Linked DNA regions of Homo sapiens: region 2 is linked to region 1. Evidence: fine-mapped expression QTL. A gene starts in region 1. The other region holds a variant in brackets. All regions are shown on one strand. Distances are from middle to middle.

The links. PIP is the estimated chance that this variant, and not a neighbour inherited with it, causes the effect.
Region 2: its variant is fine-mapped to the expression of GRIN2D in visceral fat (GTEx, PIP 0.92).

The regions. Positions count from the first base shown.
Region 1 is chr19:48,390,617-48,398,616 of GRCh38, reverse strand. It overlaps GRIN2D (glutamate ionotropic receptor NMDA type subunit 2D), which reads right to left and starts at 4,949. Exons shown (of 14, transcript NM_000836.4): 1 at 4,749-4,949; 2 at 3,681-3,959; 3 at 1-250. The coding sequence starts at 224. It overlaps KDELR1 (KDEL endoplasmic reticulum protein retention receptor 1), which reads left to right and starts at 7,066. Exons shown (of 5, transcript NM_006801.3): 1 at 7,066-7,349. The coding sequence starts at 7,259. RefSeq lists silencers at 23-122, 2,378-2,561, 6,910-7,229.
Region 2 is chr19:48,416,169-48,424,168 of GRCh38, reverse strand. It overlaps GRIN2D (glutamate ionotropic receptor NMDA type subunit 2D), which reads right to left. Exons shown (of 14, transcript NM_000836.4): 9 at 4,810-4,935; 10 at 4,355-4,584; 11 at 2,224-2,384. Among named protein-coding and RNA genes, the nearest start is that of GRWD1, 26 kb to the left of the region's middle. RefSeq lists enhancers at 4,446-4,685, 4,746-4,985, 4,736-5,502. The variant G/T (reference allele first, on the strand shown) is at 4,325.

The sequences.
Region 1 (8,000 bases):
GCCGCCACGGCCGGGCCCAGGCGTGCCGCCTCGGCCGCGTACGCGGGCCCCGAGAACACGAGCGCCACGTTGAGCGGCCGCGCCCCGCCGAGGCCGCCGCCGGGCCCACCGGCCCCGCCCGGCCCCGGCGCCTCCTCCGGGAACGGGCTGGCGCAGGCCAGCGCCAGCAGCAGCAGCATCTTAGCGGGGCCCCGAGGGCCGCGGGGGCCACCGGCGCCGCGCATCGCCTGCGGGCCCCGCCGGGCGGCCTCTGAGCGCCCGGGCCGGGAGAGACGGGGAGGAGAGGGAGGCACAGACGGGAGACGCAGGGACAGGGAGACGAGATAAAGAGACGCACAGAGGAGGAGATGCAGCGAGGGACAGGCGCCGAGATGGGGAGGACAGGGAGCGGTCGGGGTGATGGAACAGAGGGAGAGACAGGAACGGAGGACGAGAGAGATGGAAGGGAGAGAGACAGAGGGAGAGAGAAATGGAGGAGAGACAGAGGGAGAGACGGGCAGAGGTAGAGAGAGATGGAGGGGAGAGAGAGGGGGAGACGGAGAGAGAGAGATGGAGGAGAGACAGGCAGAGACAGAGGGAGAGACAGACACAGCAGAGGGAGGTGGAAGGGAGAGGTGGGGAAGAAACACCAGAGGAAGAGGTGAAACAGGGAGAGACGCAGAGATAGGGCGAGACAGAGATAGGAAGAAGTGGAGTATGGGATTGGGGGAGACGCAAAGACGAGGGTGGATAATGGGGTCAGGGGAAGATACAGAGGTAAGAGGGGAGAGAGAGGAAGATAGACAAGGTGGGGATGGGGACACCCACAGAGATGGGATCAAGATAGGAGCAGAGAGAGGCCCAGGGAGACGGGGAGGGAAAGAGCGGCAGGAAGAAGGAGAGAGACGGAAGCAGCAGAGACGGGGAGAAGACGGAGAGAGAGAGGACGGAGTGACAGAAACAGGAATGAGGGAGGCCCAGGGAGAGGATGATAGAGGCGGGAAGAGATGCAGGAAGGCGGGAGAGATAAGCGAGGCAAGAAAGTTGGACAGAGAAGAAGACAGCAAGGCAGGAAGAGGGAGACAGAGACCCCAAGGCCACCAAGAGACACGCGCACATAAAGGATGGGGAAACAATTGAGATTGAGGGAGGCAGGCAGAGCGGAGCGAAAACAGGAGGACAGAAATAGCGAAGCAAGGCCAAGATCGGGACCCCCACCAGGGAGGTGCCCAGTACAGACATGAAAGTAAGGCGGGGAAGGCGAGTGGCAGGAGGGAGCAGAAATAAAAGGGAGGAAAAGGGAGAGAAAAAATGAGAGGGAAAAGGGGTCAGGTGTGTGGGGAGAGAAAGAGAGAAATTAGTGGGGCACCCCAAGGAGAGAAAATCCCCACATGACCTTACTCCTCACCCTGACCACAACCCCTAACCCATTTTGTCCCCTTAGTCCTGTCCCCATCCCCTCATTCTCAAAGCAAGGGAGTCATGGCCCCATCTGGGATGTGGGGTTGGGGGGCACAGCTGTGGAGAGCTGGGTGGGGTGGGTGTGGGGGTCCCTGGCACCCAGCCCAGAGCAATTTGGTAAATTAGAGGAAATACAGCCTCTCTTCCTGTGCCCCCTGTTGAATACTAGCCGCCTGGGGTGGTTGGGCTGGGAGCCAGGCTCCTGGGTCCTGCCTGGGACTGAGGGAGGAGGGCACTGGGAGTCTGGACTCCTGGTTCCCAGAGAAGGACTGGAGTCCGCACTAGGGGCTTCCAGAAGGGGTGAGGGTCCAGACAAGGAAGGGTTCTCTCCTGGCTGTCATGCTCCTGTCTGGTTGCCATGGTAGCGCAGGCCTCGTCCACCCCACAGACAGCCAGGGCGGGGGAAAGGTCCACCACCCCTCCCCTGCCTCGAGGCCACAGCCCGTCCCCTCTGCCCACCACCTCACCTTCCCAGAGATCTCGGGCCCCTGTCTCCCCAGGGAAGGGGTTGGGGGCTCCTAGTATGCCCATCCCTCCCCGATCCTGGCTTCTCTTCGCTCCTCCTTTCCATTGCCCTTCCCCAAGCAGCTGGCTCAATCAGCGCTCAGAATAACCCCCCCACTCCGCCCCAAAATAACCCACAGCTGTGGCCTGGCCCCCGCGGGGTTAACACTCACGCTCCCCTCCATTCCCAGTGGCTGCTCACCCTCCAGCCCCTCCTCTGCCTCTCCCAGACCCACCCCTACCTGGCTTCTGCTCTTAGGGACCCCGCGTCCCACTCCCTACTGAGGCCCAGGAGGGCAGCCCCCGGCCCCACCCTTCTCACGGGGGCTGCATGCTCAGTTCCTAACCACAGGGATTAGGGAGAGCAGCCTCCCCCACTCCAGGGCCTGAGGAGGGGCATCCCCAGTCCTCCAGGACTCTGAAGGCCCAACCCCCAGAACCCACGCCCTCAGGGATCACAGAGTCCAGCCTCTGGACAACCCCCCGCTCCCCCCGCCTCCATCTCTACCTCCTCATGAGCCTCCGTTTCCACTTCCATCTGCATAGGGCTAAAGTCCCCAACACTCATCTCCTGCCCTGTCAGGGACTCAGGAGACTGAGCTCCCAGCCTGCCTTCCTCAGACGGAAGCGCTATCCCCTACCTCCTCCCGTAAAGACCCAGGAGTCCTTCTGGCAGCCCCTTCCTCCCCCAGGCCTTGGGAGTCTGGGCATTCGGTCCTGTTCTTTCCCAGGACCCAGGAGGCCAGGCCCCTCCTGCCCCAAGACTCTGGAACTCCAGTGCCCAGCCTCCTCTCCCTGCAGGAACCAAGAGTCCAGGTCCCCAGCTCCCCTCTTCCCCCAAGGACCCAGGAGTCCGGGTTCCGGCTCCTGTCCTCCCTTAAGGATCCCCTTTTGGTTTCAAACCCTATCCTTCCCAACATCCTGGGTGCCCCCCCACCGAGCTCTGGCCTCCCTAGTCACCCCACTTAGATCCTGTACATAGCACAGCCTGTCCCCAAGCGGGGAGGAGGAGGAGGGTGCCAGAAATTCCTAGGGTGTCCCTGTCTTCATTGCCCCCCACAGCATCCAACAGAGAAGAGAGGAGCGGCCACTTCGATCAACAGCTCCCCCCACAACCTCGAGTTGTGCTGCAGACGGCATCCCGTTTCCTCCCCCCTCACCTCCCAACACACACACACAACATCGGTCTCTCCCCACCCGAATCCTGATGCTTGGAAGAGGCTGGAAGGGTGTTCCAGAACCTTGAGGAAGGGGTGGGAGCTTGGGGCGAGGGGTGCTGGGGGCCTGGATGCCCTCAAGGTCCTTGGCGGGGGTATTAATAGCAGACTCATAGCTCTGACATGGGAGGGGAGAGCGAGAGGAGAGAGGGAGAGGACCGGCTCGCGATGGGGGGACTGATGCAGGGAGGGGGGTACAGGGAGAAGGTGAGATAGAGAGATGGAGGCACAGGGATATGGGGCATCAGGTATGTGGGGATGGGGAGAGGGAGCCAAGTGTCAGAGAAATGGGGGCGTGAAAGGTCTGAGGTGTAGGGACTCAGGAAAAAGGGGCTCAGAGAGGGAGAGAGAGAGGGTGGAGGAGAGTCCCTGAGGGACAGGGGAGCTAGGTGGGGGTCAAGACCCCTGCCCACCGTTCAAACCCCCTCCCTCCACGAGGCTTCTTGCCAACTTCCTCTGTCCTAGATTTGGGGGTCCACATTCCCACCACCATCCCTGCATCCCCTGTCCCCGCCTTACCTTTTCATGACCCTGTTCTGTTGGGGGGATGGCGGGGGGGCCAGGACCGGAACCCGGCGTCCAGCGACCCCAAGATTCCGAGGAGGGCTCAGAGAGCCGATGTCGGGGGGCAGGCCCCGGGGCGGCGGCAGTGGTGGTGGCGGCAGCAGCGGCAGCCCGGACCTCCTGTCTGTCCCTGGCTCCGTCTCTCCTTCCTCTTCCTTGGTCCTGTCCTGCCCTGTCTCTCCCCCAAGGTTGCGGCCACCTGGACTAGGCGAGGACGTGGCTACACATGTTGCTCTGGAAGTTGGGCCCCGGACATTGCAGAGGCTGTCGGGGTGTCCTCTTGCCGCCCCGACCCCGTGGGGATCCCCCCTCCGCCCACCCGGGGTGCCCCCCTCTGCCGCTTCAGCCCCGGCTCCTCCCCCCTTTCCATGTGTCCAGTCCCGCCTCTCCCTGGCTCACTCGCACCCCCGCTTTGTGCCCTCAGCCCCCCCACCCCCCCTTCCAGCGTCTGTGTCTATCTGTCTGTCTGGGTCACCTCTGAAGCTAGTGGCTGGTGTGTGCGTGTGAGGAGCGGGAGATTGCCTGCTTGGGGAACTGCTTGCCCCTTCCTCGCTTGGCCACCTCTAGACCCCCCCTTGACTCCCCCACTCTCAAACACAGGCAGAAACACACATACACTCACGCACACACGCACGATCTCACTTCCCTGGGATTCCCCCTCAACACCCCCAGAGCTTGAGGAGGGACACACACACAGACACACACACACAGAGTGGGGGGTCTAATGGGGGCCAGGCTGCCACTGCTGATAGGGGCTGTTTGGACAGACAGGAGGACACAGGCAGCCGGGGACGCCCAGACGCCTGGCCGGACGCAGGCAGGAGGCACAGAACCCAGGTACACACCATCCATCTGGGTTTGGGGGGGCCGGGGGGAAGGAGCGGGAGCCCCACGACACCCAGGCAGGCAGCTCAGGGTCGGTACAGACAGACAGACCCCTCCCTCCCTCCGCCGCCGCAGCGCTTACAGACACACCCCCCCTCCACCAGCCAGCCCCAGACACCCGGACACACAGATCCTCACCGGGCAGATGGCAGACGCTCGAGAGACCCCTGGGGGCCGGGCCGACCTACCCAGGCAACACCCCCAGCAGGCACCGGTGGCCGAGGGAGGCTGCGGGAGGCTGCGGGCGAGGGTGGCGGCGGCGGCCGCGGCTTGGAGGAGCTGGAGCGGGAGGGACTCACACACTCGCTGTGTTCTCGCACACACACACTCACTCGGGATGCGATTAACATTCAGTCCCCGTCTGCCACTGCCGGGAGACCCACAGCCCCCCCTCCTGGCCTCCCTGGGGACCCCTTCTCCTGCCAGGCTTGGGGAGGGGGCCGCCCCCCACCCCTAGCTACCAGCCTCTGCCTTCCTCCTGGGACAAGGGAGTGAGGGGCTGAAAATAAAAAGGGAGGAAGAAGTCAGGCTGGGGACAGGCAGGCAGGGACTCAGAACCCGGTATGGAGACACCAGCTTCAGAGCTAGACTCCAGGGCTGGGGGTTGCTGCCCTCTGCCCCCGCCCTGCCTTGAGGCTCTGGAAACAGGAGGCCTTTCCCTGACTTCAGTGTTCGCCACACTAAGACCCAAGCTGTGGCTTTTATTGCCCCAGAAGGCCAGGCCTGAAAACCAGGTCTCGACCCTGGTCCCAGGAGTCCCACCCCCCAGCCCCTCCTCCCTCAGACCCAGGAGTCCCCTTCTCTACTGGGACCCAGGAATTTGGGGACCGCCTCCAAGTCGGAGTCTCTTTTAAGGACTCAGTCATCCCGACTCTCCCCCGTACAAGCCACCCTCAGGGACCCAAGACTCGTGGATGTCACCCTTGGGCACCCCGTCCTTCCAGCCCTCTGAAGAAATCAACACGCCTGCACCCCTTCTTTTATTGAGGGACCCTGGCCTCCATCATCTGTGGGTACCCCATCATCCGGAAGGGAAGCCACGTCTGTCCCCTCATAGATGCAGGAGTCCAGACCACAGGCTGTTCCCCGGGGGTCCCACACCCAGATGCCCAGCATTCCCCTCCTGCTAGAGGGCTGGGCCCGGCACTTTTATAAAGCCACCCGTGGGGCTCTGGGGTAGAGCGTGGGGCAGGACACCGGGGCCTCTGAGGGTGGAAGAGGGTGTGTGTGTGTGGGCAGGGCAGAAACTCTGGAGCAGGGGGGAAGCCAGGGCCAGGGGCTCCTGAGGTAGTTTGGGTCAGAGTTTTGGCCTTGAGCCTCCTGGGTGAGGCTCCTGTTTCCTTCATCCTCAAGGTCTGGGAGAACAGGGTGAGGTGCACATTCCTGAAAAAGAAGAGAATCAGGGCCTAAATCTGTGGGTCGTAAAGGGAGAAACTGTAGATCTAGATTCTTAAGGTTAGGATGTTTGATCCATAAGATGGTGGGGGTGGGACCCTAAGTTCCAAGGAACAGCGTCCTAGGAGGGAAAAGGGCTGGGGCCCTGAACTCCTGGGTCTGAGGGAGGAGGGGCTGGGGCCCTGGACCCCTGGGTCTGAGGGAGGAGGGGCTGGGGCCCTGGACCCCTGGGTCTGAGGGAGGAGGGGCTGGGGCCCTGGACCCCTGGGTCTGAGGGAGGAGGGGCTGGGGATCTGGACTCCTGGGTCTGAGGGAGGAGGTGCTGGGGGTCTGGACTCCTGGGTCTGAGGGAGGAAGGGCTGGGGGCCTGGACTCCTGGATCTGGGGGAGGAGGGTCTGGGGGCCTGGAGTCCTGGGTCTGAGGGAGGAGGCTGGGGGCCTGGACTCCTGGGTCTGAGGGAGGAGGCTGGGGGCCTGGACTCCTGGGTCTGAGCGAGGAGGAGCTGGGCCTGGACTCCTGGATCTGAGGGAGGAGGGGCTGGGGGTCTGGACTTCTGGGTCTGAGGGAGGAGAGGCTGGGGGTCTGGACTCCTGGGTCTGAGGGAGGAGGGGCTGGGGACCCAGACTTCTGGGTTTGACGAACGGGCTGGGGCCTTGAGTCCTGGGTCTAGGGGAGGAAGTAGGTGGGGTATCTTTCTTGTCTTCTGGGGGATTGGAGTTAGAGTGCCTGAAAGCTGCAAAAGCTAGCAGCTGAGCCTCCGGGTCCCTGCAGGATTTTTCAAGCTCAGAGGGCAGTCTCTACATCCCTGCAAGGGCTGAGGCTGGTGTACTGGACTGCGTCTCTTCCAGAGACACAGACTGCCTGGGCGAACCGGTGCTGGATTTGGCACTTTCCGAACCCTGCGACCCTCCCAAGTTCCTATGGGGCAGCTTTGGGGGTGCGTTTAGCGCCGCCACGGCAAAGCAGGAGGTGGGCGATAGGGGGCGCCGGGGATCCAGGCCCCGCCCTCGGGGGCGGAGCCTCTCCTCCCGGACTCCTCCCCCTCTCGCTCTCCTCCCTCTTCCCGGCTCCAGCTCCGCCGCCAGCTCCAGCCTTTGCTCCCCCTCCCAAAGTCCCCTCCCCGGAGCGGAGCGCACCTAGGGTCCCTCTTCCGTCCCCCCAGCCCAGCTACCCGTTCAGACCAGCAGCCTCGGGGGGCACCCCCCCGCCAGCCTGCCTCCCTCCCGCTCAGCCCTGCCAGGGTTCCCCAGCCATGAATCTCTTCCGATTCCTGGGAGACCTCTCCCACCTCCTCGCCATCATCTTGCTACTGCTCAAAATCTGGAAGTCCCGCTCGTGCGCCGGTGAGAGGCCCACCAGGGCTGGCGAAGGAGAGAGATTGCGGGCGGGGGTTGGGGGACGTCGCAGGACTCAGGAAGGGTTTGGGGGCACTAGGGGCACAGGTTCCACCCCCACTGCTTGCTGGGGATCTCTCTTCTAGGTTCTGGGTCTCCAGGGGATCAGCTCCCTTCCCCAGACTGGCGGGGGTGCATACAGTTTCATGTGAATGGCTTTAGGCCCCCAATTCAGCCACCCCCAGCCCCAATCTGGGCAGCCCGAGGGTTCATGGACCGGGAACAGGGAACCATGGCAGGCGGGGAGGTGGCTGTGAGTTGGTGACGTGGACCGTGGCGGCCAGGAAGGGAACGGGAGGGAGGTGACCGGATCCGGGGCCTGAGGTCAGGGAAGGTCCTCCCTAGGCCTCACCTCAGGTCCAGACTGCGGGAGGACCCTGAGGGGCCAGGGGTAGCCATGAGGCCTAGTCTGGGACGGAGCCTCGGGCTGGAGTAGCTTCGGGGGCCTGGGCTGCCCCCTGGCTGTGGTCCGTGGGAAAGGGCCCTGCTCAGGCGGGGCGGGCTGGGGAGGCCTCCGGGGACAGCTGCACTCCAGAGCTGCCTCCAGGCTGGTCCCGGGCGCCCTGCCTTAGTTTATTGCCCATGCAGCCCACCCCCAGC
Region 2 (8,000 bases), 26 kb before region 1:
TTTAGGATTACAGGTGTGAGCCACTGCATTGGGCATTAGAAATTTTTTTAAGCCAGGCATGGTGGCTCACGCCTCTAATCCCAGCACTTTGGGAGGCTGAGGCAGGCAGATCACCTCATGTCAGGAGTTCAAGACCAGCCTGACCAACATGGTGAAACCTCATCTCTACCAAAAATACAAAAATTAGCCAGGCATAGTAGTGCACGCCTGTAATCCCAGCTACTCAGGAGGCTGAGGTGGGAGAATTGCTTGAACCCAGGGAAGGCGGAGGTTGCAGTGAGCTGAGATCGAACTACTGCACTCCAGCCTGGGCAACAGAGTGAGATCCTGTCTCAAAACAAACAAAAACAGAAATCAGATCATACCCTTCCTTACGTAAAATCTCCACACCTCAAGGCTTCTCACCGCCTTTAGCATAAAGTCCAGCCCTGACCTTGGCCTCATGCCCAGAATCCTCCCCTCATCTACTCTCTCACCTCAGCTCCTTGCCCTTCAACCACACTGGCCTTCTTGCTGTTCCTCCAGTAAACCAACACTGCACCTTCCTCAGGCCCTTTGCACACTCTGTTCCCTCCGTCTGAAGGCTCTGCTTCCGGAAGTCCACCTGGCTAGCTCTTTCACCTCCTGCAGGGCTCTGCACAAATGTCACCTCCTCCGAGAAGCCCACCCTGAACACCCTGGTGAAAATATCCCAGCCCTGCCGCCCTCTAGCTCACCATCACTTTCTGAAGAGATCTTGATTTTTCTGTTTGCATGTTTATTGTTCATTTCCCACCTCTAGACCTAGGAATCGGGTCTATTTGTTCACCGCTTAGCGTACAGCAGAGGATAAGAAAAATGCACACGGAAGGACTGAGTAAATGCAGGACGGGGAGAGAGTTACTGTGCTCAGCCTTGTTGTATTCGTGGGCTGCACTTTGGGGCCTGAACTCAACTTTTTTTGTATTGTTTTCTTTTTGAGACGGAGTCTGTCTCTGTTGCCCAGGCTGGAGTGCAATGGCACAGTCTCGGCTCACTGCAACCTCCGCCTCCTGCATTCAAGCGATCCTCCTGCCTCAGCCTCCCAAGCAGCTGAGATTACAGGCGCCCGCCACCACGCCCGGCTAATTTTTGTATTTTAAGTAGAGACAAGGTTTCATCATGTTGGCCAGGCTGTTCTCAAACTCCTGACCTCAAATGATCTGCCCGTCTCGGCCTCCCAAGAGCCTGTTGCCGCACCCAGCCTAATTTTTGTATTTTAAGTAGAGATGGGGTTTCACTATGTTGGCCAGGTGGTCTCCAACTCCTGACCTGAAGTGATCTGCCCGTCTCCGCCTCACAAAGTGCTGGGATTATAGGCGTGAGCTACTGCGCCTGGCCTCTGAATTTAACTTCATCCCTATGATTTGGGAAAGGGATGTAAAAAGATAAGAAACACAATCTAAGCATTGATTCCAGTGAGTTCAGGTCTAATGATAATGATAATATCAGCAAACACCTATAGTGCACCGGGCACTGTTCTAAATAAATAAATAAATGTTCTGAGTGGACTAACTAGTTTAATTCTTTTTTTTTTTTTTGAGACGGAGTCTCGCTCTGTCGCCAGGCTGGAGTGCAGTGGCATGATCTCGGCTCACTGCAACCTCCGACTCCCAGGTTCAAGCGATTCTCCTGCCTCAGCCTCCCAAGTATCTGGGACTACAGGCGCGTGCCACCACGCCCAGCTAATTTTTGTATTTTTTGTAGAGACCAGGTTTCACCATGTTGGCCAGGATGGTCTCGATCTCCTGACCTTGTGATCCGCCTGCCTTGGCCTCTGAAAGTGCTGGGATTACAGGCATGAGCCACCGTGCCCGGCTTACTAGTATAATTCTTGTAACAACCTTATGATCATTACAGTGGGGATACTCTTGTTATCCTCATTTTACAGAGGAGGAAACAGAGGTTCAGAGAGGCTGAGTAACTTGCCCAAGGTCACAAAGCCAAGAAGGGGAAGAGCAAAGATTTGAGCCCCATCAGTCTCACCCCAGAATCCAGAAATACTGCATCCCAGAAAATATCCCAAGGAGCCTGCTCCTGGGAGGAGGAGTCCACTTCCACCCTCAGTGACCTCCGCCCTCCAAGCTGACCCACCCAGGGCTGACCTCTGGGACTGAATGAATGAACCTGGACCCCTTGCCATCTTTGAGCATCCTCAGGTCCCCAGCGGCCCAACCCCCACCCCCGGCCCGAGTCTGCGCTGACCCTGCCTTGAGCTGAGTGAGCGCTTCCTCTACGCGGGGCTGGTTGTAGCGCACCATGTAGCTGTGCATGTCGGGATAGTTGCTGCGGATGTTCTTCTCCGTGGAGCCGTTGGGCACGGTCCCAAACTTCAGGGGCGGGTACTGCTCCTGGGGCCTCTGGAACTGGGGCAGAATGGGGAGTGATTAGGGCACCCTCCGCAGGGACATCCCTAACATAAATCACCCATTCTGAGACACACCCGCTATCTGGCAGACACCCCAGTCCCAGGAGTGTTCAATATTTCTCAACACTCGCTCACTACATTAGGGAATGCTTTTCCACTCCCACCCAGCACACACGGTTGCAGACACGTGATCCAAAAGTTCACGAGAAGCCTCCCTGAGGCCCCTGATGTGCCAGGTGTTAAGTCTTCACTTACTGAATCGCGGGAGGTCCTGGGAGTAGAGGCTGGCATGGCAGGAGCTGGGAGCTGTTGCTATTTACCAATCCGTTCAGAAATAGTTCACTTTTTTTTTTTTAAACGGAGTCTTGCTCTTGTTGCCCAGGCTGGAGTGCAATGGCACACTGTCAGCTCACTGCAACCTCCGCCTCCCAGGTTCAACTGATTCTCCTGCCTCAGCCTCCCGAGTAGCTGGGATTACAGGCACATACCACCATGCCCAGCCAGTTTTGTATTTTTAGTAGAGATGGGGTTTCTCCATGTTGGTCAGGCTGGTCTCGAACTACCAACCTCAGGTGATCCGCCCGCCTTGGCCTCCCAAAGTGCTGGGATTACAGGCATAAGCCACCGCGCCCAGACAACTAAAACAAGTTTTGTAAAACCAAACTTATACATAAGATGCAGGCAACTATTCTATTCTACTCCATTCCATTAAAAAATGCTTATTGCAACCCATCAAACTGATTTCTCAAGCCTCTAATAGGTCATGACACCCAGCTAGTTAATCACTTTAGTCTCAAAGTATGCTCTGCAAACCACCAGTCCCTCAACAAACGGTGATTGCAGTGAGATGTGTACAGGAATGGAGAGAGTGAGCATTTAGAGTGATTTGACAGAATTCTTTTTCGTCTGTTGAATCTAATAAATAAAAATGTGAGTTTGGCTTTTTTTTAGGCAGAGTCTCGCTCTGTCACCCAGGCTAGGAATCAGTTCTATTTGTGGCGTAATCATGGCTCACTGTAACCTCCGCCTCCCGGGTTCAAGCGATTCTCCTGCCTCAGCCTCCCAAGTAGCTGGGACTACAGGCACCCACTACCACGCCTGGCTAATTTTTGTATTTTTATTAGAGACGAGGTTTCACTATGTTGGCCAGGCTGGTCTCGAACTCCTGACCTCAGGTGATCCACCCACCTCGGCCTCCCAAAGTGCTGGGATTACAGGCGTGAGCCACCGTTCCTGGCCAGGTTTGACTTTTGTCTGTCTTGGTTTTAGATCTTATTTTACTTTTCTAATAATTCATTTCCGTTGAATTTTACAAAAGCATTGTCTGCAATGGACTAGCAGTTTTTTGTTTTTTTGAGACAGAGTCTAACTCTGTCGCGCTGGCTGGAGTGCAGTGGGGCGATCTCGGCTCACTGCAAGCTCTGCCTCCTGGGTTCACGCCATTCTCCTGCCTCAGCCTCCCGGGTAGCTGGGACTACAGGTGCCTGTCACCACGCCCGGCTAATTTTATGTACTTTTAGAAGAGACGGGGTTTCACCGTGTTAGCCAGGATGGTCTCGATCTCCTGACCTCGTGATCCGCCCGCCTCGGCCTCCCAACGTGCTGGGATTACAGGTGTGAGCCACCGCGCCCAGCCTTAGAAGTTTCAAAAATTAATCCTTCCTCACAGTTTGAGAGAAGCACTGGTTCTAGAATATCCTATTTGACACAACTGCCCCTAGAACATTCAGGGACACCCTCTTCCCTAGGAATATTTTAAATAGCTCATCGTGAACCGTGTTCTTTCTTCATCCACAACATTCCATTCTACCATTCTGGAATTCTCCTTGGGAAGAGACCCCTTCCCGCCCTCCCCCCACCCCTCTCACCCCCGCCCCCCGCAAGAATCCCCTCTAATCTACCACATGACAAGCTCTGTGACCTCCAGCCCCAGCCCCA[G/T]CTCCAGCCCAGCCCTGGGCCCACACACACCTTGCGGTCACTGAGCCCAGACACAGTATCCACGTACTCCTCCTGGATCATGAAGGCGGCCAGGTTGGCTGTGTAGCTGGCGAGGAAGATGACGGCGAAGAAGGCCCACACCAGCACCATGATTTTGCTGGTGGTTCCCCGGGGGTTCTCCACGGGCACCGAATTATTGAACACCAGGGCCCAGAGCAGCCAGATGGATTTCCCAATGGTGAAGGTTGAACCGCCAGGGCCTGCAGGGGGCCAGGACGTGGACATGGACCCCAAATCCCTTCTCAATAAGGAAGGGAAAAAAAAAAAAAGAAAGAACTACAATTCCCAGTGGCCCTCAAGGCATCTGGCACCTCCCGAGAGGCCCTAGCTTGACCGCCCCCCCTCCAGGGGCTGCTGGGAAATGTAGTTCTCTGTCTCTGTGGTTCGGGATCTCCGAGGCGGGGGATGGAGGAAGGGGGACTCACGCTTGCCCGTGGCCAGGCTGCGGTTGTAACCAACAGGACTGAGGTACTCGAAGATGAAAACAGTGACGGCGACCACAGTGAGGCACATGACGAACATCATCACCCACACGGCGGGGCTGTAGGGCTCTGGGGACAAGGGAGTGCGTGGTTATGGCTCAGCCAAGCAAAAGACTCGGGGATCAGGCTGGGGCGGTGCCTCACGCCTGTACTCCCAGAACTTTGGGAGGCTGAGGCAGGAGGATCACTTGACGCCTGGAGTTCAAGACCAGACTGGCCTTGAACTCCCTGTCTCTACAAAAAAAAAAAAGGAAGAAAAAAGAAAGAAAAAAAACCCTAGGGTACTACCAGCAGGGAACAAGGTGCAGCCCAGATCTGACCCCATCCTATTCTGGCCCTATCTCTGCTTCTCCATCTCCAAGATAGTCTTATGGCACACCCATACCCCTAGGAGGCAGCCATTCTCAAAGAGAGCCGTCGCAGGCATTTCTGTGGTTTCAGCCACCAAATAGAAACTGTCTCCTAAATGTTTCCTGAGTCACAGGCCCAAGCCTCCACCTACCCCAGCCATCTCCTCAGGCCATTCATCATGTCCCATGCTGAGCCCAGACCAGCTCCCACGCTCCTCATGATGGGAGCCCCACCATCCACCCAGTCACAGGCCCAAACCTCATTTGCCGTCCTCCCTTCCTCCCTCCTTCTCCCTCGCTGGCCACAGCCTGTCAGTATCCAGCCCCACGCTCCTGCCCCTGATGCTACTTGGGCCTCTCCTCTCCATTCTCATGGCCAACAGGGCTCAGGCCTCATCTCCTCCCACCAACCATTTCCCCAGCCTCCTGAGCTCCTGTCTGTCCCCTACAGCCTATCCCCCACACAGCACAGAGAGGACCTGGCCCCTCCCCTGCTTACAGCCCTCCCCAGGCTCCCTAGCACCCCCAGGACAAAGTCCCTGCCACTCAGCCTTGTCACACTCTCCTTTCTGTCCTGATCACTCTCTCAAGCACCCATGCTTTACTCAAAACTCACAGGTGGCTGGGTGTGGTGGTTCACGCCTGTAATCCCAGTACTTTGGGAGGCCGAGGTGGGAGGATCACCTAAGGTCAGGAGTTCAAGACCAGCCTGGCCAACATGGTGAAACCCCATCTCTACTAAAAATACAAAATTAGCTGGGTGTCGTGGTGGGCGCCTGTAGTCCCAACTACTCAGTAGGCTGAGGCAGGAGAATTGCTTGAACCCAGGAGGTGGAGGTTGCAGTGAGCTGAGATCGTGCCACTGCACTCCAGCCTGGGTGACAGAGCAAGACTCTGTCTCAAAAAAAAAAAAAAAAAAGAACTCGCAGGTGCCTGAATCAGCGACACCCTCTCTTCCTTGTCTCCTAGGTGTCCCTGCTAGAGTTAACACCCTGCCCTGTCCATTAGACAACCTCCCATTCATGTGTCCCCTCCTCACATTCGATAACTGTGTTTAGCCCCTGGGAGCTCACCAACAATAAACCCAAATCACCATTTCATTGAGATTAGGACCAGGTGATTCAACTTTCCAGGGCCAAGTGTGAGCTGTCAGGACTGCCCCCGTCACAGCAAGGTCAGCACCCTGGACTGTCACTGCGGCAGCTGGGGACACGCCTGTCACCTCTGCTGGGCAACTTGGTGGGGCATAAATAGGACCTTGTCACTCCTCTGCAGTGTGCTGCCTGCAAGCAGGGGCCCCACGTGGTGCTTCTCAGTGTGCCCTGCAGAGACCTTGGTGCAAAGGGGAGGCCACAGGAGACACCACTGGGCGAAATAAACAGAAAACAAAACACAAAGGAAGGGATGGCTCTTCTTCCAGCCCCTCCCCTCTCCCAGGAGCTTTGCTCACACTTCAGAGAGCAAGTGGGAACTGACAAGCACTGTTGCCCTTGGCCGATGTACGCTTCTCCAGCTCAGCAATGGTCCCTCTACCCAATCCATCTCAAAGCCACCAGCCCATCTGGTGGGCAGCTCTCTAACCACACCCTGCATCTGTCTGCTGTCACCTTCCTATTGCACACCCCCACTCTGTCTCTGGCATAAACCTTGCAGTAGCATCCCCACCAGCCACTTGCTTCCACAGAGTGGGATTTTTTTCTTTGTTCTTTTTTAGAGATAGGGTCTGGCTCTGTCATCCAGGCTGGAGTGCGGTGGTGCCATCTTGGCTCACTGCAACCTCTGCCTCCTGGGTTCAAGCCATCCTTACACCTCAGCCTCCGGAGTAGCTGGGATTACACAGAGCTGGATATTTTAAAAACTTAAATCTGATTATATATCCCCACACCATCTTCTGTAGTTAAAACCCTTGTCCGGGTGCAGTGGCTCACGCCTGTAATTCCAGCATTTTGGGAGGCTGAGGTGGGCAGATCACCTGAGGTCAGGAGTTTGAGATTAGGCTGGCCACCATGGTGAAACCCCGTCTCTACTAAAAATACAAAAATTGGCCAGGCGTGGTGGTGCATGCCTGTGATCCCAGTTACTTGGCAGGCTGAGGCAGGAGAATCGCTTAAACCTGAGAGGCAGGTTGAGGTTGCAGTGAGCCGAGATGGTGCCACTGCATTCCAGCCTGGGCGACAGAGTGAGACTCTGTCTGAAAAAAAAAAAAAGAGAGAGAGAGAGAGAAGTAGAAGCTTATCTTCTGCCTCCTTCACAAGGCTGAGAGATCCTACTGGACAGGGATTTGTGTCTTCCTCATTTGCCACTGTGTTCCCAGTGTGGAGCCCACCACCTGGCACATAGTAGATGCTCAGTAAACACTGATGGTGACTTAAGTGCTTACAAGGTATTGGTACCATGCTAATTTGTTCTCTTCATCTCATACCTAGTACAGGAAAACACTTGGGTTTTGTGGGGCCTGAAGCTTGCACAATTTGGAGGGCTCTCTTTGAGAAAAAATAATTCAACCTTATGAATACAAAACCAGGTGCAGGGCTTGGAAGCTGCAGTGCAAGAGAAGGCTCCTGAGCTCAAGCTTCTTTAGCCTCTTGATGAAATGTCTTCTGGGTAGGGAAATTATTTCTTCCATCTTGTAGATTAGGAAACTGAGGTTCAGAAATGATGTCACTTCACCGAAGTTGCACAGCGGGTTCAAGTACCGATGATACCGGGAACCCAGGTTTTCTGATCCCAGGGCCCACACGGTTGGGGACGGCTACTTTGCCTAGGGCTAGCTCCCTGTCCCAG